7 linked regions of the Homo sapiens genome follow. Changing the gene in region 5 together with the main gene of any one other region gives a genetic interaction. Each region holds a gene or a part of one and is shown on either strand. Other genes may lie near its edges.

Region 1 (3,500 bases), on a different chromosome or scaffold from region 5:
CCAAAATAGTTTTGTGAGATAGGCCATTTTAGCCCCATTTGTAATAAATGAGTTTAAGAAGTTAAAATGACATATCTAACTTCTGAAGATCCAGAAGGTGAACCTAAACCCTTCTGCCTTCAAAGCTACTTTACATCTTTTCACTTACTTTGCAATCTTCTCCTTGAGAACCTTCCAGTCCCATAGGTCTGTAGGAGTAACATTCCACATATCATACTGAAGAATCTAAGGAATACACAACTCAAATTTATTCTACAGCAAGTTAAAACTATGACCAAAAAAAAAAAAAACCCACAAATGACTAGCTGCCATGTCCCCACATCCCAACAAATGCTGTCTTCTAATCAACCTCTATGAGGAATACAAGCTCCAGAGATTTTCCTGGACAAAATTCCATGTAGTCATATTGATCAGAAGCAGGCTAAGAAAACTGATTATCCCATGTCATATCTACAAACCAGAAAACTCTAACATTCATAAAAGGGTGTGGCTGACACATTCTCTTTTTTTAACACTAAAAATGTTACTTTCTTCAGTGCCTTCATCTGTCCCTTGATCTGTTTACTTAGCTAAAAACACCTATTTTCTAATAACCACACATTAGATTTTCTAATATCAGCAGGAATGTCAGAAATGAAATTAACATTTTATATAGTAAAGAATCATAGTACTGATAATAAAGGCAGTGGGAAAGGCAGAATTCTAAGACAGCTTCCCAGATTCCCACACCTTGGTGCACAGGCTATTTATAATCTCCACTTGAGTATGGACATGACTTGAGAATAGGATGCATGTCACTCCAGCGATTATGGCAAAGGTGAAAGGTTTCTGCAGATGTAATTAAGGTTGCAAATCAGCCGATTCTGAGTTAAATAAAAGGAAGATTACGCCAGGTGCAGTGATTCATGCCTGTAATCCCAGCACTTTGGGAGGCCAAGGCAGGCGGATCACTTGAGGTCACAAGTTCAAGACCAGCCTGGCCAACATGGCAAAACCCCATCTCTACTAACTCGGGAGACTTGAGGCAGCAGAACTGCTTCAACCTGAGAAGCAGAGGTTGCAGTGATCTAAGATCACACCACACACTCCAGCCTGGGTAACAAAGTGAGACTCTGTCTCAAAAAAAAAAAAAAAAAAGCGGGACAGGGGGGTGGTGAGGACATTATCCTATGTGGACCTAACTTATCAGGTGAAAACCCTCAAAAGAGACTAGACTGTGCCCCTTTTGAAACGAGAGATGGTCTCTCCCACTGGCCTTAAAGAAGCAAGATGCCATGAGTCCTTGAAATATATTCTGCCAACAACCAGGTAAGCTTGGAAGAGAACTCTGTGTCTCAGACGAGATCACAGCCCTTACCAACATCTTGAACACAGACCCAGAAAAGAAGGCCCAGCTAAGCTAAGTCTGGACTCCTGACCTGTGGAAACTGTGAGATAACGAATGCCATGTTTTAACCCACAGAAAACTAACATTGGCAGCATCCCTCTTACATTATTTTAGCAATGACTAGTTCTAAATAAGAGATTAAAACAGAGTATCCTTTTTACTCCAGAGGACAAAGGTATTTAAGTTTCCTATGGCTGGTGCAACAAATTACTAAAAACTTGGTAACTTAACAAAAATTTATTCTCTCATAGTTCTGAAGACCAGAAGCCCAAAATCAACATGTTGGGAGGGCCACACTCCCTCCAGAGGCACTAGAAGAGATTCTGTTCCTTGCCTCTTATAACTTCTAGTGGTTATCAGCATTCCAAGGCTTGTGGTTGTAACACTCCAATTTCTGCCTCCATAGTCACGTTGCTTCCCCTTCTGTGCCTCTTGCAGGACAACTGTCATTAGATTTAGGGCTCACCTGGATAATCCAGGTAAATCTCCTTATCTCAAGGTTCTTAATTACATCTGCAAAATACCTTTTTTTGAACCAAATGAAATTAAATTCACAGGTTCCAGGAATTAGGATGTGGACATATCCTTTTGTGGGGTCACCATTCAGCCCACTACAGGTACTCACAGGCAAAAACAATTCCATCCATATACTTACTCCTTTGCTAACTGGAGAGCCCTCATAGGTTTCGTATGGGCCCTGCTCCTTGGCAAGGTCACAGCTGGCTTCCAGAGCACCATAATAAATAGTTTCAAAGATCTGCTTATTCAGTAACTGGGCTTCTGCACTCTCAAAAGGGTATCTCATCAGGATAAAAGCATCTGCCAGACCTTGTACCCCAATTCCAATGGGGCGATGGCGTTTATTTGATAGGCATGCCTTTGTGTCAACAGATTTTAAAGAAAAGGAGAAAACATTACTGAACAGGAAAAGCAACATTCTGTACCAAATGAGACAGACTACCTCTTTTTCTCAAACCATTTTATTGATAACCATTTAAATGATGACTTGAAGATCATGATTGATTCCTTTCAATTTGGATTTCAATAATTACCAATAAGCAGAGAAATCTATTCATACCTCTGGTACAGGATAGTAGTTTATATCAATAATTTTATTCAAGTTTCGGACAACGACTTTAGTGACTTCAGCCAACTTCTTAAAGTCGTATGTGTGTTCTGATGTGACATACATATTCAGGGCCAGGGAAGCCAAATTACAAACAGCAACCTGGAATGCAAAAAACAGGTCAAGAATCACACAATTTTTATTTCTACTTCCTGTGTCAATTACACCACCATGTGAGCCTCTAATACTCAGACATTAAAATTTTAAATTTTTATATTTGACTTCTCCCTCTTCATCATTCATCAGTCCATTTCTAAATCCCACTGATTCTATTTCTTCAATACCTAGTCATATGTGTTAGTTATAACATGCATCAGCAAAATAGGTAAGAGAGAGAGAGAACCCTATGTTCCACAGTACACAGCTCTATTACCAGACATATATCACACTATGTTATAATTAGCTTTTTACATATACCTATCTCATTATTCAGTAGATGAGTGCCCTGCAATATGGTAGCCACTGGCTACATATATCTATTTAAAATGAAATAAAATTTGAGTTTCTCAGTTGCACTAGTCATATTTCAAGTGCTCAATAGCCATCAGATACAGAACATTTCCATCACTGCAGAGTTCTTCAAAACACACACGTCCACCTCACCTTCACTGATATTCTGACAAGCCCTTAGCAACAATGGATCTCAATTTGTGATTTCTGAAAAAGCTCTTCCAGTGATTTCTCCACTACACGAGGCAGTGAGCTTCTTCACACAAGGATCATCTTATTTATATTTATATGTTTAGCACTAGCAACACATCTGGCACACAGTAAGTCTTGATAATGTTGAATGAATACACTTTCTTTTCCATTTTGATTATGACTATCCCAAGCCAAAGTCTTAACTTCTCTCACATGGACTACTGAAAGTTTCCCAGTTGAACTCTTGATGCCCTTCACATCTACTCCATTCTACACATGTTGCCAAATACCCATTTTTTTAAATATAGCTTGAATCACAGAAGTCTAATAAATGCCAGGAAGAAA
Region 2 (3,500 bases), on a different chromosome or scaffold from region 5:
AAGTCCATGAAGGGACGTGGCTTGCCTGATGTCACAGTTAAGTTTATGGAAAGCCAGAACTGCCACTCAGGTCTCCTGAGCCTAATGCTTTTTTCCATCCACAGCATGGCTGAACTACAATATGAGATAAAGTTTACTTTAACAGCAACACGAGGCCGGGCATGGTGGCGCATGCCTGTAACCTCAGCACTTTGTGAGGCCAAGGCAGGCAGATGACTTGAGAGTCCAGGAGTTTGAGACCAGCCTGGGTGACATGGTGAAACCCCGTCTCTACAAAAAATACAAATATTAGCTAGGCGTGGTGGCATGCACCTGCAGTCCCAGCTACTCAGGAGGCTGAGGCAGGAGGATTGCTTGAGCCTGGGAGGTGGAGGTTGCGGTGAGCCAAGATCGCACCACTGTACTATGAACTAGGTTAGGCCTCCTTCATATTCAGTGAGGGTGCAAGTCCACAGGTTACTTTGTTCAAGCACAGAATGCCTGAATCCCACACTACAGGATGGGGAATTTTCCACGTTCATGGAATGTTGACACAGCAACAGTACCTTCAATCTTCCACCTTTCACCCATGCAAGCAAACGCCACTTTTGATTCTGACATTCTTTCCTTTGGCCATGAAATAATATGGCTCGAAAAAATCTTATTTCACTTCATCCTATTCCTTTTTAAAGAATTCATCTTTTAGATGAATTATAGAAGGCTGCTTTTAATATCAACCTCAAGGCTATGAACAGTCAGCTAAGATACAAAGATGTGAACAGCAGGCATGCATTCTAGGCGTTGGCTATTCTAGCAATCAAAGATCGAGACGTTTATGTCACCAAGCTAACCCCTGGGAGACCACGGTGGCCTTTCTCCACGCACTTCATCACTTAGACACGCCCATGTTGCCAATTGGCTTTAAAGAGTAGCCCAGAACTTGCCCAGTCACAGCAGGGTTCTCCAGTTCCCACTTTTGCAGCAATGCCTTGGAAGATGGTCTTGATGTGGGGCCTGTGTAAAGAAACAGTGTGGTTCAGTTAATGAGAAGAGACGGGCTGAGAGCCCATACCCATAGACACCAACATACCCATAGACACCAACCCCTATCTTTTCCTTTCTTTTTTTTTTTTTTTGAGACAGGGTCTCACGTTGTCACCCAGGCTGGAATGCAGTGGTGTGATCTCAGCTCACTGCAGCCTCCTCAACCTCCCAGGTTCAAGTAATCTTCCTGCCTCGGCCCCCTAAGTGGCTAAGACTACAGGTATGTGACACCACACCCAGCTCATTTTTTTGGATTTTGTAGAGATGGGGTTTTGCCATGTTGCCCAGATTGGTCTCGAACTCCTGAGCTCAAGTGATCCACCCACCGTGGATACCCAATGTGCTGGGATTACAGGCATAAGCCACCACCGCACTGGGCCCATCTTTTTCTTTCTAATGGGAGGTGGAAGTGCCCACAAAAAGATAATGAATGTGCTAAGTTCTCAAGGTCAACTGCAGACCCTTGACTGAAACTGGCCCCTCCTCCAGGTCCTGGTGGGCCCTCAAAGCAGACTGGACTATCGGACTGAGACTACAGACAGAAAGGCTGAGCAGAAGCATCACCAAAGCACCAGAAGAAATGTCTTCTTAGAGACAGGGTCTCACTCTGTTGCCCAGGCTGGAGTGCAGTGGCACAATCACGGCTCCCTGCAGCCTCAAACTCCTGGACTTAGGTGATCCTCCTGCCTCAGCCTCCCAAGTAGGTGGGGCTACAGGTGTGTGCCATCACACCCAGCTAATTAAAAACTTTTTTTTGTAGGGACAGGATCTTGCTATGTTGCCCAGGCTGGTGTTGAGCTCCTGGCCTCAAGCAATCCTCACACCTCAGCTTCCCAAAGTGCTGGGACCATAGGCGTGAGCCACCATGCCTGGCTAATTTTTTGTTGGTGGTGCAGAGATGGGGTCTCCCTATGTTGATGTGGCTGGTCTTGAACTCCTCGGATCAAGCACTCCTCCCACCTCAGCCTCTTGAGTCACTGAAATTACAGGCATAAGCCATCGCACCCGGCTCAGAAATTTCTACTGCAGCAGCAGCAGACAGTATGATTGCAAACAGCAGGCAATACGAAAGTTCCTTTAGAGATCCTCTTTTAATTTTTTCCCTTTTCTTTATTTCTCCTTATAATGGCTTTTAGCAAGTGAAGAGACCCTCTTTCATTTGTCTGGATGTGTGCTGCCAGGCACAGAATGGTTCTGGACATTTGGATTAAGAACCAGGCAGCGTTTTTGAGAGCTACATTACCATTCAGAGAAAGGCCGCTGTTCATTCCTTCCACAGCTCAGCACGCGGATATATTACTCTTGAGACTTTCCCTCACTGTTCTGCTCCCTAATGGCCAGTCAAGGCTTCCTCACAAAAAGTTTCTGGTACAGACATGAAATCTTACAGGGTTGCAAAGTTAACATTTAGGATTAGGGATGAAGACAGCCACACCGGAAACCGCAGAGCTTCACTGAACTTTTACAGTGTCCTTCTGGTAAAGGTGCCATTTGTACTTCTGCCACCACAGTATGAGGAAAGAGAACTGATGGAAACAACTGGAGCACTCCATATGTCAAATACTTTTACGTGCATTGTCTGCTGGTTGCCTTTCTAACTGCTCACTGTGCAGGTGCTTCGAGATAAGTATTTTCAAACCTTTTTTTTTTTTCTTAAGAAACAGGGTCTTGCTATGTTGTCCAGGCTGGCCTTGAACACCTGGGCTCAAGCAGTTCTCTCACCTCAGTCTCCTGAATAGCTGGCACTACAGGTGCAAGCCACTGCACACACAGCTGTTTAAACTTCTGAGAAGCAGAAAGGCCTCTCTACTTCTGTGTTTTATTAATAACACACTGAAGAGAATCCCCAGACTCATTCACCAGAAAGGTAATTAAAAAAATTATTTTTGGCTGGGCGCAGTGGCTCACACCTGTAATCCCAGCACTTTGGGAGGCTGAGGCAGGCAGATCACGAGATCAGGGGATCAAGACCATCCTGGCTAACACGGTGAAACCCCGTCTCTACTAAAAATACAAAAAATTAGCTGGGCGTGGTCGTGGGTGCCTGTAGTTCCAGCCACTTGGGAGGCTGAGGCGAGAGAATGGCGTGAACCTGGCAGGTGGGGCTTGCAGTGAGCAGAGATCGCGCCACTGCACTCTGCACTCCAACCTGGGCAACAGAGCAAGACTCCGTCTCAAAAAAAGAATCATTTTTTCTTTTTTACTGAGACCGAGTCTCGCTCTGTCACCCATGATGGAGTGCAGTGGTGAGATCTCGGCTCATTGCAACCTCTGCCTCCCAGGTTCAAGTGATTCTTGTGCCTCAGCCTCCCATGTAGCTGGGATTAGAGGTGCCCTCCACCATGCCCGGCTAATTTTTGTATTATTAGTAGAGAGTTTCACCATGTTGGCCAGGCTGGTCTTGAACTCCTGACCTCAAGTGATCCTCCCATCTCAGTCTCCCAAAGTGCTGGGATTACAGGCGTGAGCCACCATGC
Region 3 (3,500 bases), on a different chromosome or scaffold from region 5:
CAATTTTTCTGAACACTTAAATTTAACTAAACAGCTAGTCTATAGTTTGCCTACACATTGACCAGAAGATTTGTAAAAATGTTTTTCTCTCTTTTGCTCAGAATAATAGTCCCATTAGAATTTTTATTACACAATGGAGAGGTTTCTCTCTCTCTCTTTAAAACCGCTATTTCTTGAGTAACATAAGAACCTGAATCCAAATCCTGACAGTACCATTTATTAGCTGTTTTTGCCTTGAGTCAATTACTTCATATTTCAGTGAGGCAGTTTTCCTCCTCTGTAAAACTGGGTAGAAATGTCCACTTCATTCATTCGCTATGCAGATTACATAAGATAACATATGCAAAGTGTTTCACCTACTCCGAAGTACACAGTAAATAATAAATAATAATGATAACTAAAATTAACAAGTTAAGAAATATATGATGCAACCATGTTGCAGGCTCTAAAATGAGAGAGACATTAAATCTGTTATTTGAAAATGAGAGTCAGGACAGATAAAATGATACATATTCAAGCTTACATAGTAAGAGGCAGTTGACTTAAAGTATAATAAAAAAAAAAAAAAATATATATATATATATATATAAAAAGATTCCGGGTTTCCTGACACCCAGGTTGTAACTCTTTTCACCTCTATGAAATTATTTGTCTTTTTAAAGCAATAGAAGTTATTCAACCCTACAGCCACAATATAACTATAACACAAACATGGATTACGTAGTTTTGAGTGGAATAATATGAGTACCAGGACATGTGTAGACACCCAGTACTTGATTCATTTTTTTATCGTTGTAGCAGAATTCCTTGCATATTTACTGAATGGATTCCAAAGATCACTTTGGGGTAAACCTGCAGGATAAATGCCTCAGATAGCAAATGTTGTTGGCTATTACCTTTCCTCTATAGGTTGATACTTTTCTTTATCATAAAGAAATTGTACCATACTTCTTCCCTAGAACTCAAAGTATGCCTACAAAAGCGCTTAAAAGGGTTATGCAAAATGAAGGTACAAACCTGCAAGTAACCCATCTCTATCAAATGTCTTTTAGCAAAATAAAATGAGCCATTTTCATATAATTCTCCATCCCAGTCTTGTCGACGAGGCCGTTTAGCTGGATTTAAATTCAGAGGTTCGGTCACTTCACGAACTAAAAGCAAAAAGTTAGAGTAAGTCCACGTTGCCCTGAATATAGAAAGTGTTAATTTAGTAACTAAAAAAGTTAATAAAAATGAACTCAGAATGCAGAGCATTTCTTTATCTAGATAAAGAACTTTTCTTTTTTTTTTTTTGAGACAGAGTCTCGCTCTGTCACCCAGGCTGGAGTGCAATGGTGCGATCTTGGCTCACTGCAACCTCCGCCTCCTGGGTTCAAGCGATTCTCCTGCCTCAGCCTCCCAAGTAGCTGGGACTACAGGCATGCACCACCACACCTGGCTAATTTTTGTATTTTTAGTGGAGATGGGGTTTCACCATGTTGTCCGGGCTGGTCTCGAACTCCTGACCTCGTGATCCGCCCACCTCGGCCTCCCAAAGTGCTGGAATTACAGGCATGAGGCACTGCACCCGGCCTGATAAAGAACTTTTTTTAGGCTGAATGTGGTGATTCACGCCTGTAATCCCAGCACTGTGGAGGCCAAGGCGGGCGGATCACTTGAGGTCAGGAGTTCGAGAGCAGCCCAGCCAACATAGTGAAACGCCATCTCCACTAAAAACACAAATTTAGCCGGGCATGGTGGTGGGTACCTGTAATCCCAGCTACTTGGGAGGCTGAGGCAGGAGAATCGCTTGAACCCGGGGGGGGGAGATTGCAGTGAGCCGAGATTGCGCCACTGTACTCCATCCAGCCTGGGCAACAGAGTGAGACTCTGTCTCAAAAAAAAAAAAAAGAACTTTTTTAAAGGAATAAAATCTGTAATAATTCTGATGATTTATCTTTGCTTTCCAATAGCTACTAGAAAACTAAAGTATTTTATAATGAAATGTGGAACAATTAAGGTATTCATACAAATATTATGCTTTGGGAGGACATCAAGACAACCTTAAAGTAGCTTTAAAAGAACTGAATTTGTCATAAAATACCTATATTAATATTTGGGCCCTTTAATCTAGTTCTCATTGTTTGCATATACAGAAATAAGTTTTATTTATCTAATGTGGTTGAGAACTTGTTTTTATACAATTATTGCTGAAAAGTAAAGATTTCTCCATTAAATTATTGAAGATTTTATATTGATGAAAATGTTTATGTAACATATTATACATTCTTACCATTAGTTAAAAATATACTAAACATAATAATAAATTATGTTTATGAGTATACCTGATAATAAAGGCTCAGTAATGTCAACATTAATGAATAGAACATAATGTAATCAATGAAGACTTTGGTACTGTCATGTAGAGATTCCTTTGCCTTTCCACTGAGTTTTCCTCAAATCTGTGTGTGTGTGTGTGTGTGTGTGTGTGTGTGTGTATGTGTGTGTGTGTAATAGCTGGTTACTCTCCAGAATCTTTCTTCACTTTTTGCTGCCATTTCTGTGTTTATACAGGCTTCTAGGAATAACCTCTACTTACTTGTTTAACGAAATCATCCCCTGTTCAATTCCACCCCAGTGTTTGAAATAACCCAGGAAAAAACCTTAGCAAATACAAATTAAATAGCTAGAGATAACATAGCTTTATGGGCACTGGCTACAGAGTAGTGACCAGAACTCTCTCTATTCTCAAAAAGTATACAATCTAGGGGTAGAGACAGGTAATAAACCAACTAGATAATTCAAGTGGTACTTTGAAGAAAAGAGAGGGACAAATCTTTCCTAGTATCGGTGGCTGCTTTCTCCCTGGTCATATCTGCTGAGTATGAGGAGAAGGTACAAGAAAGATCAAGCTTTGCATAATCAGAGGGACTCTGCTGAGGTAGGCAAAAACTAGAAGGGCTTTCAATGACCTTGTGGACTTGAGTTACAGATTGTCATCTGTAGGAACCACAAACATATAGCTCGTTTTTCCCCACCTAATGCTTCCCCCTTACAAGACTTTGGCTGAGTGTACTGGGTGGGAAGCTGGGAATGGGCTGGAAAGCAGGGAGACATCATAATAGTATTGTGGTCATCAGATCCCTTAGTCTTGTTAGCAAGAGTAGGGTATGGGTGTGAGTGTCAGTAACACATACAAGATGTATCTCCTAATAAGACACCTATACTAAGAGGTGAGATGAAATTAAAGTTTCAACCCAGCCCAACTCCTAATTGAATCAAAGTGATCAGCCCCTTATCCTATCTTCCTGATAGAAGAAAAGGTGTACCCTCTCTGGAGGAAAATATGTACTCAAGTGTCTATGCCAGATATACAATTAAACATGAGCCAAATGAAGAGGCAGAAATAGGTGACTCACAATCAAGAAAGAAGCAGATTACAGAACTGTAAGTGACTAGATGTTGAAATTTGCAATCAAGGACTTTCAAATAGCTATCAAAAATATGTTAAATTAGAGGAA
Region 4 (3,500 bases), on a different chromosome or scaffold from region 5:
TTTTTCCAAGTAAGTTTACCAGTCTGCAATATGCAGATTAAAATGAGATTTCTGTCTCAGGGGTATTCCTCTAAACTGCCAGTTCTTTCTTCCATTCAGTGACCAAACTAACAGCAACGCCGGGGCACTTGACCACAGTGATCCACAGTTCTTTACAACTGATAGTGGCCATTTCTGACATTTGCACTAACCTGACAACAGAAACTGGGGAGGAGAGCTCCTTTCTCATCACAGTAGCAATGGCCTTGTCTCCAAAATTTGTTTCAAGTGGGGGTAGAGGAGTATAGAAAAAGGATGAGGGTGAATTTGTCAGCTGCCTTTTAGGAACAGCTGTGTTATTTTTTCTTAACAAGCCTGGAGTGGGGGAGGACCATATAACTTCACTGTGGATATAGTTTAGGAAAGGGCTTTTTTGATCAGCACTACTCAATAATTTGAGACTTAAGCCCTTTTTTGTTTTATTTTGAAACTACTGGTATTTAAACACATGCCCAATGATGGATGCAATTCTAGGAAAAAAATCAATTTTGAGTTTCAGAGCTGCAATGAAGAGGAAGGTGCAAAGGCAGATATTAGCTAAAATCAGCAAAATCTCTACTGGGACTAGGTGTCAAATGATTGATTCTATAAGTGGTCTGAAATGTGACTCACTAAACCTAATATGCTCACCTGGGAATTTGCATCATCACATTATGGAAGGAGCATATATTATTTCAGATTTGATGTAATTAACAAGCATAAGTGAACTTTCTTTTGCAAGACCAACAGAAAATCTCAAATATATGTCAAAAAAAGGTATTTTGGAAAAACATCAACAGTCTTCCCAGAACCTATTTTATGATTATAGAAAGAAGAGAATCTATTAGGATAAAATGTACACCAAGACATCTAATTTTTCCATGCAAACCCAACAAGCTGCTTGGCTACCACTCTGCTCTACAAACTTCAAACACCAATTTTTCATCTTTTCCTTTTCCAAATTAGGTATCAACATTTTCCATGAACCCTCTACTAAAACTAACCCTGGAGTAACAGAGACTTAGAAGTTCAGTTTATTAAAATTTCAACAAAAGGAAACAGTAGCGCAGGTTCATTCTATTCTTGTTTTTCCCCTTGCTCTTTCATTTACTGATTCAAGCAACTCAACTAATAGTAAATGTATGATACCTACTACTATGCAAAAAATACACATGTAGGCCAGGCATGGTGGCTCATGCCTGTAATCCCAGCACTCTGGAAGGCTGAGATGGGAGAATCGCTTGAGGCCAGGAGTTTGAGACCAGTCTGGTCAACATAGTGAGACCCCATCACTATTTAAAAAAGAAAGAAAAAAAATACACATCTACTCCTACCTTTGAAGAGCTTGTGGTTTGTCAGAGATAGTCACATAAAAACATTATAATCCCCTACCCAATACTGGAGGGGAGGGATCCCCTGCGGGGACACAAAGAAGGACATATTGCTAGGGACAGCTAGCAATGTGGGGCTGGAGGGAGAGTGAGGGATTGGGAAATGTTCCACAAAGGGGATGACATCTGAATTGTGTCTAAGGGATGCTGGGAATTTGCCTGTTGAAAAAGTATGAGAATGTTATTCAGACAGAACAACAAAGACAGAGAGAGAGACAAAAAATCACAGCCTATTTAAGTTTTAGATCTACTACCTGAGTATAGAGGGGAAAAGCAGGAAAGAGGATACTGGGTTGGGGCCAGATCCTAAAGAGTTTTTTTAAAAGTTTAATCCCAGAAATCAACCACTGGTCTTCCTTCTTGTGTGGCATATCACAGAAGATGATGACACTACATAGAAATGCCAAAGAGAATGCTAGGGATGATCATTCCTTTGGAAAACCTCCCAGGCTAATACATACAGCACAAGATGATCATACATTTAGCTCTCTTGCAAGTGTGCTCTTGTTTGGCTTGGTTTTAAATATAATTTGTACAAGAACGTTCCATGATTACTTAACTAAAGCCCAAAGTTGATAAAAAAGACCTCTTTCCCCAAATTGAAAGAGTAAACTATTACTCCTTCAATTTCTCTTCTTTAATCAAAAGCAACAAAAGTCAAGGATCAAGAGATCATTCCCGCCTTGCAGAGATGTAAAATGAGGCAGAAATTTATAATAAGCTCTGCTTTAATCCCCTTCCCAAAGCTTTTCTTTGTGACAAACTATTTTTTCATGTTCCTGAAACCTTGAGATCTCAAGAAGCAGTGTGTAAAAGTGGATCTTGAGGGGTGTGTATGGTTCATCCCTGTTGACAATCACCCAGTTTTCTATAATCCTATCCTAGCCTTCTAGTTACATGTAAGGATTTACCATAAGCTTGTTGGAAAAGGGAGGCCCTCTACAATCAGTAGATTGAGGCCCACGAAACTTGGATTCATGCTCCCCACTTCACTAGCTACCATGTAACTGAAGTGAGTAACATTTAACTCCTTAACTCCTTCTCCTGATACTGATTCAACTGGAAGAACAGCTGACACACACTGCTCCCCCCTACTTTTGGGAGTTCTATCAGTAAGGCAGAAGAGCAGATTATCTCTCAGAACATTCTCATGCTCCTGACCACTACCAAAGAACTACGTTAAAAATGCTTCCATCTGAAACTGCTGCATTTCAAGACAAATTCAAATCTGAATTCACTCAATGAGAGTTTGGAGACAAAGAAAAGTCAACAGATCTTGGGCTGCACTGAAGAACATCCAGAGTTTCAAATAATAAAGAGAAACCTTTTCCAGGCCTACCCAGTCAGGCACTCTGGCAAGTCAAGATTCTCAACCCTTTGAAATCAATGATTCTCAATCTTGGGGCTGCAGGTTAGAATCACCTGAAAAGCTTTTGAAAAACAAGATGCCTGAGCTCTCTCCTGGAGACCAACTGAATCAGGAACTCTAGGACAGTGGTCCCCAACCTCAGGAACCAGTTTTGTGCAAGACAATTTTTCCAGAGATGGGCAGGGTGGGCATTAGATTCTCATAAGGAGTGTGCTACCTAGATCCCTCACATGCGCAGTTCATGATAGGGTTCACATTCCTTTGAGAATCTAATGCCACTGCTGATCTGACAGGAGGTGGAGCTCAGGCAGTAATGCTTGCTTACTGGCTGCTCACCTCCTGCTGTGCAGCCCAGTTCCTAGGTTCCTAACAGGCCATGGACCCATACCGGTCTGTGGCCCAGGGGTTGGGGACCCCTGCTCTAGTGGGTAGAGTACTGGCATCATGTTTTTTGAAAACTCCCCTTGTGACTATGATCCAAGTGAGAGTTAAGGACTACTGTTTTACGGCCCTGCTACTCAAAGTAAGGTCCTTGGACCAGCAATGGTATCACCTGGGAACTCAAAAGAAACACAGAATCCCAGGTTCCGTTCCTAACCTACTAAATCAGCATCAATATTTTAAGAAGATCCTCCCTCACGTGGTTCATACAGACAATAAAGTTTGAGAAGCACTGCTCTACAGAAAGGGCTCACACAGCACAGGACCTGTTTTGTAACAGT
Region 5 (3,500 bases):
GACCTCATATCTACAGAAAAAAAAAAAAGGCTGGGCATGGTGGCATGTTTTCTGTAGTCCCAGCTACTCAGGAGGCTGAGATGGGAAGATCACTTGAACCCAGGAAATTGAGGCTGCCAAGAGCTGGGTTTGTGCCGCTGTACTCCATCCTGAACAACAGAGCAAGACCGTGTCTCAAAATAAAAAGATGAAACTTCTGCTGAACCTACATCCTCCTTACTTAAAAGATTAGAGGCCCTCCTTTGATAGCGTGACCAGATGGTATAAGGTATCAAAGAGAAGCATTAATGGGAATTTAGTACAATAAAATTCTTTCCTAATAGTCAACAAAAGCAATCAAAAGAACACAGCCATATAGTGAAGTGTTAGGTAAAAAAATCACTTTCAAAAGCTCAAGTTTCAAGTTAGTATCTCCAGGTTTTACTTTATAAAAGAAAAAAAAGGAAAAAGCATGAAATGGTACCTTTAATTTTAACCTGGTTCTACCTTCTTCATCCAGCATTTCTTCATCTTCAAATTCATCTTCATAATACTGAGGATCAAAAGGTCTACAAATTGTTTTCCAAATAAACTATTAATCATATTTTATAAAGAATATTACTGCTATGTAATAACATCTCTATTAATAAACACCATTATATCAAAAAATCATAATATAATTTTAAAAATCATAATGATCAATATCTTCATGCTTAACTTCAAGGAAGTAGTAATTGTACTTTTTTCTTTTTTTTTTTTTTTGAGACCGAGCTTTGCTCTTGTTGCCCAGGCTGGAGTGCAATGGCACGATCTCGGCTCACCACAACCTCCGCCTCCCAGGTTCAAGCGATTCTCCTGCCTCAGCCTCCCGAGTAGCTGGGATTACAGGAATGCGCCACCATGCCTGGCTAATTTTGTATTTTTAGTAGAGACAGGGTGTTTCTCCATGTTGGTCAGGCTGGTCTCAGACTCCTGACCTCAGGTGATCCGCCCTCCTCGGCCTCCCAAAGTGCTGGGATTATAGGTGTGAACCACCACACCCGGCCAGTAATTTTACTTCTTAAAATTTGTTGTTAATACATATTGCTTGAAATAAAGTACAAGCAAGGGTAAATATTCAAAATATCCTTTCTTCTTCTTATGTAACTCTGCCAAAGAATAGGCAACATATGCTCTAGCTTTCCACATCATTGTGCCTGTGGAAAAAAAATTTTAAAAGCACAAGAGCTCGAGTAAACTTAGTAAATAATACCCATCAAACACTGTCTAATTGTCCAAAACCATTACCTTTTCTAGACCAACAATAGCTGCTACAGTGGACACTGGCATTTCTCTAGCAAATTTCATCGCTTTCAATTTCAGCCTTTTCAGGGTTGTACTAATTAAAAAAATACCTTGAACACTTGTGGTGTCTGTTAATTCATAAGAAAGTATCAAACTGCTAAAAACAATCATAGCATTAAAAGCCTCCCTTACTAATACATATTTTTTCTATCTCAGGATGTGCTTGACTAATTTTTTCAGAGATACACGATCAATTTTCCGTTTTTGTGATTTGTCAACTCAATGCGAAATAAGAAAAATAAACATTCTATGTATTTCTACTCAACATCCTGAAAAAATTTTAATTGATTTCCTTACCTGGGCTCTACACTGAGAAAGTTGGGCAGTTTAACAAAATATAAGTCGTTTCCTAAATCAGTGTTTACTTTGGGTATTTCTACTTCTATTCTGGTCTCAGGAATTGGCTCCTCTTCCTGTTGATCCTGAGGCAATCCATTTTCATCCTAGTGAAAGAATCGGAAGTTTGGAGCTTGACAGGACCTTAGAAATGGCTTCCTTCAACCTCCACACTTTAATTACTCTGGGGTGCAAGAAACATAATTAGATATCACTTTAGGACTAAAGAAGTCCCCAGTCCCCATCCCAACCCACCTACACACAAAATGGGAAACGATCAATTTGGATACCTCAGTACAAAAAACTATCTCCTTTATGATAAATCTGTCTTCCAAATACTCAACAAAAGTGTGAAATTAACACTTCAATAGGAAGTCACTCTATCAATTAAAACCAGAGAAGATTATCAACATAGCAGACACTTCTTGGCATGAGCAAGAAAAACATTCAAGTCAATGGTTCTCAAATCACAAGTCCTCACAGTTCAGTCCCCTAAGGCATGACACCAACCTCATGTTTGGCAGTTATTTCCACTCCCCCTTATAACCAAGAGTTCCCTACATAATGAAGAAAGTCATCTGTTCATGGTATTTTCATACTAGAATTCAGTTATCAACTTCCTTTCCTGGAATAAGGGAGACTCTTCACCTTTGAAACTTTATGCCTGGCCTTGAATAAGTTCATGTTACTAACTGACTTACAACAGGCTGTCCTGGAGTAGGTGGTTTGTCTTCTCCATCACTCCCTGAAGAGATATCATCTGCACCTCCAAATAAATCCATGGTTCCACTATTATCTTCAATGCAGAAGGAAAAAGGCATTAGTGTTACTATCTGTAACTAAGGTTCTTCACAGCTGATCACTTCAACACATTCCCAAGGTTTCTGGACCAGCATCAGAAAACCACCAAAAACATAATGCTGAGCCTGGCTCTCAAAGACCCAACCAGAGAGTGTGGGGAGAGGGAAGGGGGCAAATCTAGTGAAAGGCAAGCTGCACAGGAGGCACTTATTTCTCCTTTCATTTTCACCATCCTTGTTCTCCCACTTTCCTTTATTCCCCAGGAGCCCAAATGTTTCCTACAGTCTAGATGCTCAAAGTTGGGGCTGAAGCACTCCACAGACACCCATTTTCCATAAGTCTATCCCAGATTCAAAATTACAGTCCAGGCATAGTGGTTCATGCCTGTAATCCCAGCACTTTGGGAGGCCAAGGCAGGTGGATCACTTAAGGTCAGGAGTTTGACACCAGCCTGACCAACATGGTGAAACCCCGTCTCTACTAAAAATACAAAAACTAGCTGGGCTTGGTGACAGGTGCCTGTAATCCCAGCTACTTGGGAGGCTGAGGCAGGAGAAAGGAAGCTGCCACACCTGGCGGTAGAACTCCTTTCATCCTTCCAACTTATAATACCAGGTGGTGGTGGTGGTGGTGGTGGTGGTGGTGGTGGTTGCGGTTGTTGTTGTTGTTTTGAGACAGAGTCTCACTGTTGTTGCTCAGGCTGGACTGCAGTGGTGCGACCTTGGCTTACTGCAACCTCTGCCTCCCGAGCACAAGCGATTCTCGTGCCTCAGCCTCCCAAGTAGCTGGGACTACAGATGCACACCACCTCGCCCCGCTAATGTTTTGTATTTTTAGTACAGACAGGGCTTCACCATGTTGGCCAAGCTGGTCTTGAACTCCTGGCCTCAAGTGATCCACCCACCTTGGCCTCCCAAAGTGCTGGGATTACAGGCGTGAGCCACTGCACCCAGCCAACACTGGGTTTTTATGAGCTCTTCATCTAACTCACAGCTCAAAGAATCAGTTTCTTCATCTAAGTCAAGAACTTAGGAACAAAA
Region 6 (2,733 bases), on a different chromosome or scaffold from region 5:
TCCAATTCTTTGCTAGCTTCATTTTCTGAAGGTTCTACACTTTCAACTCGATTAGTTTCCATTACCTCCTGGTCAGCAATTACATGTTTGACATTCTCAACCATCTCTAGCACATCCATAACTTCTTCAGGCTGACTATCCTGCTGCTTCTCACTTTCCCTTACCTCAGTTTCCTCCTCCATCTTAACCTCCATTTCCTGTTTTTGTTCTTCCTCCTCCTGTTCTTTCTCTGCATCACTATGAACAATCGCTATTTCCTTTTCCTCTTCCTCTCCTGCTTCCTCTATTTCTACATCATTGTGCTGATTACCTGTCTCCTCCAACTCTTCCTCTCGCTGAGCCACCTTACCCTCTTCTTGTTCCGCCTTCTGTTCTTCATTACGCACCACCTGATGCTCTTTTTCCTTCATTGATTGTCTTCTAGGCCTAGCCTCCATTTTATTTATTTGTTCTGCAAATTCGATGCGTCTACCTTCAAATAAAGCTAAAGAATAAAAATTTACATGTGTAAAATTTACCGATTAAGAAAATTCAAAGCCATAATTTTATAACTGGTCACAAATTGTCATTAAGCTTCATCTGAATTTGTTTTTGTAAAGTTATGACAAAAGATTATGGCAATTAAGTAACCACAAACTGACATAAAATTATAAAAGCAAAGATCCATGGGAAATCTACATACTAGAAATTGTGGCAGACAGAACTACACATTTTCTAACTGATGAAGAAAACAGATCAATCTTTATGTCTGATGAAAAATAAAACTTCTGTAAAACAGAACCAGTTTTGGCATAAAATCATATATATTAATTTTTCTGATCCCAAAGAGATAAATCATCATCTTAGCAGTGTCTATCCTTCCATGTGTTTTCCATCTAGAAACTGAGTTGGTTTTCACATTTGTCTTATTAGCATTTTATCAGAACAATAATAGCATGCAAAAAAAAGTAATTTTACACAAATGCTTAAGGAATACAGATGCATAAGCACTGTCTATAACTTTCACATTAAACTCCATCATGATACAAATATTCCTATACTACAAACTCACCAGCATCTCAGAATGTATCTTTTTTTTTTTTTTTGAGATGGAGTCTAGCTCTGTTGCCCAGGCTGGAGTTCAGTGGCGTAATCTCGGCTCACTGCAACTTCTGCCTCCCAGGTTCAAGTGATTCTCCTGCCTCAGCCTGCCAAGTAGCTGGAATTACAGGTGCCCACCACCATGCCCAGCTAATTTTTTTTGTATTTTTAGTAGAGACTAGAGACGGGGTTTCACCATGTTAGCCGGGATGGTCTCGATCTCCTGACCTCATGATCTGCCTGCCTCAGCCTCCCAAAGTGCTGGGATTACAGGCGTGAGCCACCACGCCCGGCCTAGAATATCTTATTATCTTATTTAAAAAAAAAAAGCAAACACAGCAAACCAATCACTGAATCATAATTATTTTAGAAAACAAACGTGTGCATATGAACATATTACCTTACCCACTATGAACAATTCAATGGACCTCTTCGCATACTTACCGTTCATTTTTCTCTGTGACTCTTCTATTAGTTTTTGGGTAGCTGGACACATTCTTCCAGGAATATAAAACAAATGGGGCTTTGTCTTAGTTCTTATATATTTAATTATTTTGGCATTATGTTCATTCCATTCTTCTTGCTAAAGAAAAGGTAAAGGGTCAGTGCTTTTGTAAACACAAAGGATTACCAATCTTAGAATTCCAAATTACCACTCACCAGCTGCGCAAGCTCAACTTTCTGTTCCAAAAGCCGCAGTTCTGTCTGTTTAGCACGCCTCTCTTCAAACAGTTCTCTCCTTTCATTTTCAACCTGCTTTCTCTCTTCTTCTGCCTGAACTTCAAGTTTTTGTTCAATTTCCTGGCGCCGCTTTTGCTAAAAGTTAAGTAGCCTGCTTTAATACTTACGTGTTGAAATAGTTACAACAAAAGGTATATATGATTTCAGTTCAATTATGATAAAAAGTTATTACACATACTAATTACGTGAAACATTAGAGGCAGGTAGATCATCTGAAGTCAGAAGCCAACACCACCATCTCTACTAAAAACACAAAAAAATTAACAGGGCGTGGTTGCACGCACCTATAATCCCAGCTACTTGGGAGGCCGAAGCAGGAGAAATCACTTGAACCCCAGAGGCGGAGGTTGCAGTGAGCTGAGATCACGCCACTACACTCCAGCCTGAGCAAGAAGAGCCAAACTCCATCTCAAAAAAAATTTTTTTTTTTTTTTTTTTTTTCACTATGTAAAGGTATCTGCAGGCCGGGCACAGTGGCTCACACCTGTCATCCCAGCACTCTGGGAGGCTGAGGTGGGTGGATTGCTTTGAGCTCAGACCAGCCTGGGCAACATGATAAAACCCCATCTCTACAAAAAAAAAGAAAAAGAAAAAAAAAAGGTATCTGCATATGCTTCACATTTTTTCTTTTTTTGAGATGGAGTTTTGCGCCTGTTGCCCAGGCTGGGGTACAATAGTGTGATCTTGGCTCATTGCAACCTCACCTCCAGGGTTCAAGTGATTCTCTTGCCTCCGCCTCCCAAATAGCTGGGGATTACAGGCGCATGCCACCACAGGCGGCTAATTTTGTATTTTTAGTAAAGACAGGGTTTCACCATGTTGGCCAGGCTGGTCTCGAAAAACTTCTGACCTCAGGTGATCCACCTGCCTCAGCCTCCCAAAGTGCTGGGATTACAGGCATGAGCCACTGCA
Region 7 (3,500 bases), on a different chromosome or scaffold from region 5:
TCCCAGGTAGCTGGCCTTATAGATGCATGCCACCATGCCTCGCTAATTTTTGCATTTTTAGTAGAGACAGGGTTTTGCCATGTTGGCCAGGCTGGTCTCAAACTCCTGGCCTCAAGTGATTCGCCCACCTCAGCCTCCCAAAGCGCTGGGATTACCAGCATGAGCCACTGCGCCTGGCCCTTTTTTTATCTTTATCTTCTAGTGTTGCTACCTCTGAAGAGAGGAAAAATTTTAAATCATTCAAATCTCTATTACACAAAAATTTAAATTAAAATGAATTAGAGACCTAAATGCTAGAACTAAAACTATAAAACTCTTAGTAGAAAGCATAGAAATAAATCTTCATGATCTTGGATTAGGCAGTGGTTTCACAGATGACACCAAAATCATAAATGACAAAAGAAAAAACAGATGAATTGGATTTCATCAAAATTACTAACTTTTGTGCTGCAAATAATACCATCAAGAAAGTGAAAAGACAACTCAAAGGAATGGGAGAAAATATTTGCAAATCATGGAGGACTTTTATCCAGAATACATAAAAAACTCTTACAACTCAATCAATAAAATGACAAATGGATCTGAATAGACATCTTTCCAAGGACGATAAATAAATGGCCAATCAGTGCATGAACAGGTGCTTAACATCATTAGCCATTAGACAAATGCAAATCAAAACCATAATGATATAATGTAACTGCTATGTGTATATACTTGGAAGATTATTTCCCTATGTGAAAGAAAAAGTATGAATATTTTAATGTCTGACAGGGCTGCATTATCTGTTGGAGCTCAGTGGCTATCGACCACCAATGACTGAGAAATCAAGTATAACAAATATGAAACTCAAATTAGAAATAAGATGTTATCTTGGCTGGCACGGTGGCTCATGCCTGTAATCCCAACACTTTGGGAGGCCAAGGTGGGCAGATTATTTGTGGTGAGGAGTTCAAGACCAGCCTGGGCAACATGGTGAAACCCCATCTCTACTAAAAATACAAAAATGAGCCAGTTGTGGTGGCGCACACCTGTAGTCCCAGCTACTCAGGAGGCTGAGGCAGGAGAAACTCTTGAACCTGGGAGGTGGAGGTTGCAGGAAGCTGAGATCGCACCACTGCACTCCAGCCTGGGCAACAGAGTGAGGCGTGAGGCTCCATCTCAAATGACAAAACACACACACACACACACACACACACACACACACACACACACACACAAAGAAATAAGACATCATCTGTAAAATGGGAATTAAAAAAAAAAAAAGAAAAAAAGAAGAGGCCAGTTGTTTCCCATAATCACCAAAAAATATTTTGGGGAAGCAAAAAAGAGTACCCACATCACAACTCCCAGAGACCCTGATTTGATAGTTTGGGATCATTGCTAGAACTGTGGTTTCCAAACTACACCAAGCTGCCCTGGGGTACCAAAGCAAACTCACAGGTCCTACAGGATATTTTACATATTCAAATGAAACACAGTGATACTTAACATCTGTTGGTCATCATGTGAACCACTACTAGCTCAAGGTAGTTCAGTTTCAACATTAGATGTTAGATTTCTTTCAATGATCACATCTTTGCAAAGCTGGGTTTTCAGCAAAAATGAAGTACTGTGTGAAAATCACTGTGGAACAAGAAATGAGGGTGGCAGTATCCAATCTGATTTCTAAGGTTGGAGGAGTTGTATAATATCCAACAGCATATACATCCTATTAGTAAGTAATTATGATTGGCTGGGTATGGTGGCTCATGCCTGTAATCCTAGCAATTTAGGAGGCTGAGGTGGGAGGATTACTCGGGCCCAGGAATTCAAGACCAGCCTGGGCAACATAATGAGACCCTGTCTCTACTAAAAATAAGACAAAAAATAAAAACAAAAATAAAAAATATTAGCCAGGCACAAAGTGAGCTGTGATTGTGCTACTGCACTCCAGCCCAGGTAACAGAGTGAGATCTTGTTTCAAAAACAAACAAACAAAAAAGTATGATTATTTAAGAATGAAATAAAAATATTTTTTTCTTTCCATTTATGTGGATGATTTTGTTTTTGCTTTTGTTTTTCATAGAGACGGGGTCTTGCTATGTTGCTCAGGCTGGTCTCTAACTCCTGGGCTCAAGCGATCCTTCTGCCTTGGCCTCCCAAAGCACTGGGATTATAGTTGTCAGCCACTGTGCCCAGCCTATGTGGATGATTTTTTTTAAAAAATGTCTACTCAATGGCTAAGAAATAAATAAGCTGTTTGGATCTAACAAACTAATAAAACAAAAGTGTTAGGTATTTACCTTGACTTAGGAGCACCATGAAAATAATTACTGAAGACACTGAGGTAAACCTGAACTCAAACAGTTTGATGAACATTTGGGAGGAAGATATGACTCAAGAGGGTTCAGAGTCTTTGACACTCTGGATAGATGATAAGCTATTATAGAAGACTGCAGGAACCCCTCTTTTGGTAGTTTTGATAGGAAATTCAAAACTATCTTTTGAATTTCAGTGCCAGCACAAAGCTCTGAAACTTCAATAGCCAAATATATGCCTTAGATATCTGGGCAAACTCATCCCTGATCTATGCATCAAATAGGACAACAGGCTCACAGCTGAGTCCCAGGGATGGCCACCCACACCAATATTAACCAACAGAAAACCAGACCCTGATATGGTGTTATCCTAGGATAACACCACCTACTCTCAAATGACCTACGAGAGTCAAAACTCTTGGAAATACTAGGATGTGAATAACAGTGTCTTCAGCTTTTGTTTTCCTATGAATAATACAGAATTATGTCAATTAGTTTAATCAATTCAAAAAGAGAAGACTGCCTCTAAATAAGTCAAATGTTCTCAAAATCATTCTACTACTACATACCCCCACACCAATTTTTTCTTTTTTCTTTTTTTTTCTTTGAGACGGAGTCTCGCTCTGTCGCCCAGACTGGAGTGCGGTGGCACGATCTCAGCTGACTGCAACCTCCGCCTCCCAGGTTCAAGCAATTCTCCTGCCTCAGCCTCCCGAGTAGCTGGGACTACGGGTGTGTGCCACCACGCCCGGCTAATTTTTTTGTATTTTTAGTAGAGACGAGGTTTCACTACATTAGCCAGGCTGGTCTCAAACTCCTGACCTCAGGTGATCCACTCGCCTTGGCCTCCCACCCACCTCGGCCACTTCAGTTTCTTAAGCTCTTAAATGAAGATACTCCTGTTTCTCAGATTATTATGAGGGTTAAATAATTATGTAAATGTTTAGTAAATAATGGCTATAGCAATAGTTGTATTTGAATTAGGTATTTTTCTGATGGGTTGAGTCCTTAAACAAAAAACATAAAATGATACAGTCTCTGGATATACATAGAATACTGGTTATTTCTGACTGGCGGGATTATGGGCAACTTTTCTAAGTATACATTTGTATAATATTTTCATTCTTGGTAATATGTTCTTGTAATCAGGAAAAATTTTTTTTTATACAAATCTCTGGGAGGTCAAGGAGATCTGGGATCATT

What was found.
Region 1: changes in LEO1 (region 5) and RRM1 together harm fitness more than expected from each alone (negative genetic interaction), as found in Homo sapiens cells (one large-scale study listed by BioGRID).
Region 2: changes in LEO1 (region 5) and PGD together harm fitness more than expected from each alone (negative genetic interaction), as found in Homo sapiens cells (one large-scale study listed by BioGRID).
Region 3: changes in LEO1 (region 5) and CMAS together harm fitness more than expected from each alone (negative genetic interaction), as found in Homo sapiens cells (one large-scale study listed by BioGRID).
Region 4: changes in LEO1 (region 5) and NFYC together harm fitness more than expected from each alone (negative genetic interaction), as found in Homo sapiens cells (one large-scale study listed by BioGRID).
Region 6: changes in LEO1 (region 5) and PNN together harm fitness more than expected from each alone (negative genetic interaction), as found in Homo sapiens cells (one large-scale study listed by BioGRID).
Region 7: changes in LEO1 (region 5) and SDHC together harm fitness more than expected from each alone (negative genetic interaction), as found in Homo sapiens cells (one large-scale study listed by BioGRID).

What each region holds. Positions count from the first base shown.
Region 1 is NC_000011.10:4,125,799-4,129,298, reverse strand, and holds part of RRM1 (ribonucleoside-diphosphate reductase large subunit), read right to left. Parts: intron 2,616-3,500; coding exon 2,466-2,615; intron 2,265-2,465; coding exon 2,043-2,264; intron 226-2,042; coding exon 149-225; intron 1-148. UniProt on the Homo sapiens protein: Provides the precursors necessary for DNA synthesis. Catalyzes the biosynthesis of deoxyribonucleotides from the corresponding ribonucleotides.
Region 2 is NC_000001.11:10,405,564-10,409,063, reverse strand, and holds part of PGD (6-phosphogluconate dehydrogenase, decarboxylating), read right to left. Parts: intron 994-3,500; coding exon 924-993; intron 1-923. UniProt on the Homo sapiens protein: Catalyzes the oxidative decarboxylation of 6-phosphogluconate to ribulose 5-phosphate and CO(2), with concomitant reduction of NADP to NADPH.
Region 3 is NC_000012.12:22,056,218-22,059,717, reverse strand, and holds part of CMAS (N-acylneuraminate cytidylyltransferase), read right to left. Parts: intron 1,152-3,500; coding exon 1,018-1,151; intron 1-1,017. UniProt on the Homo sapiens protein: Catalyzes the activation of N-acetylneuraminic acid (NeuNAc) to cytidine 5'-monophosphate N-acetylneuraminic acid (CMP-NeuNAc), a substrate required for the addition of sialic acid.
Region 4 is NC_000001.11:40,743,704-40,747,203, reverse strand, and holds part of NFYC (nuclear transcription factor Y subunit gamma), read right to left. Parts: intron 1-3,500. UniProt on the Homo sapiens protein: Component of the sequence-specific heterotrimeric transcription factor (NF-Y) which specifically recognizes a 5'-CCAAT-3' box motif found in the promoters of its target genes.
Region 5 is NC_000015.10:51,958,279-51,961,778, forward strand, and holds part of LEO1 (RNA polymerase-associated protein LEO1), read right to left. Parts: intron 2,456-3,500; coding exon 2,361-2,455; intron 1,767-2,360; coding exon 1,621-1,766; intron 549-1,620; coding exon 464-548; intron 1-463. UniProt on the Homo sapiens protein: Component of the PAF1 complex (PAF1C) which has multiple functions during transcription by RNA polymerase II and is implicated in regulation of development and maintenance of embryonic stem cell pluripotency.
Region 6 is NC_000014.9:39,178,254-39,180,986, reverse strand, and holds part of PNN (pinin), read right to left. Parts: intron 1,897-2,733; coding exon 1,741-1,896; intron 1,664-1,740; coding exon 1,525-1,663; intron 485-1,524; coding exon 1-484. UniProt on the Homo sapiens protein: Transcriptional activator binding to the E-box 1 core sequence of the E-cadherin promoter gene; the core-binding sequence is 5'CAGGTG-3'. Capable of reversing CTBP1-mediated transcription repression.
Region 7 is NC_000001.11:161,352,381-161,355,880, reverse strand, and holds part of SDHC (succinate dehydrogenase cytochrome b560 subunit, mitochondrial isoform 1 precursor), read right to left. Parts: intron 1-3,500. UniProt on the Homo sapiens protein: Membrane-anchoring subunit of succinate dehydrogenase (SDH) that is involved in complex II of the mitochondrial electron transport chain and is responsible for transferring electrons from succinate to ubiquinone (coenzyme Q).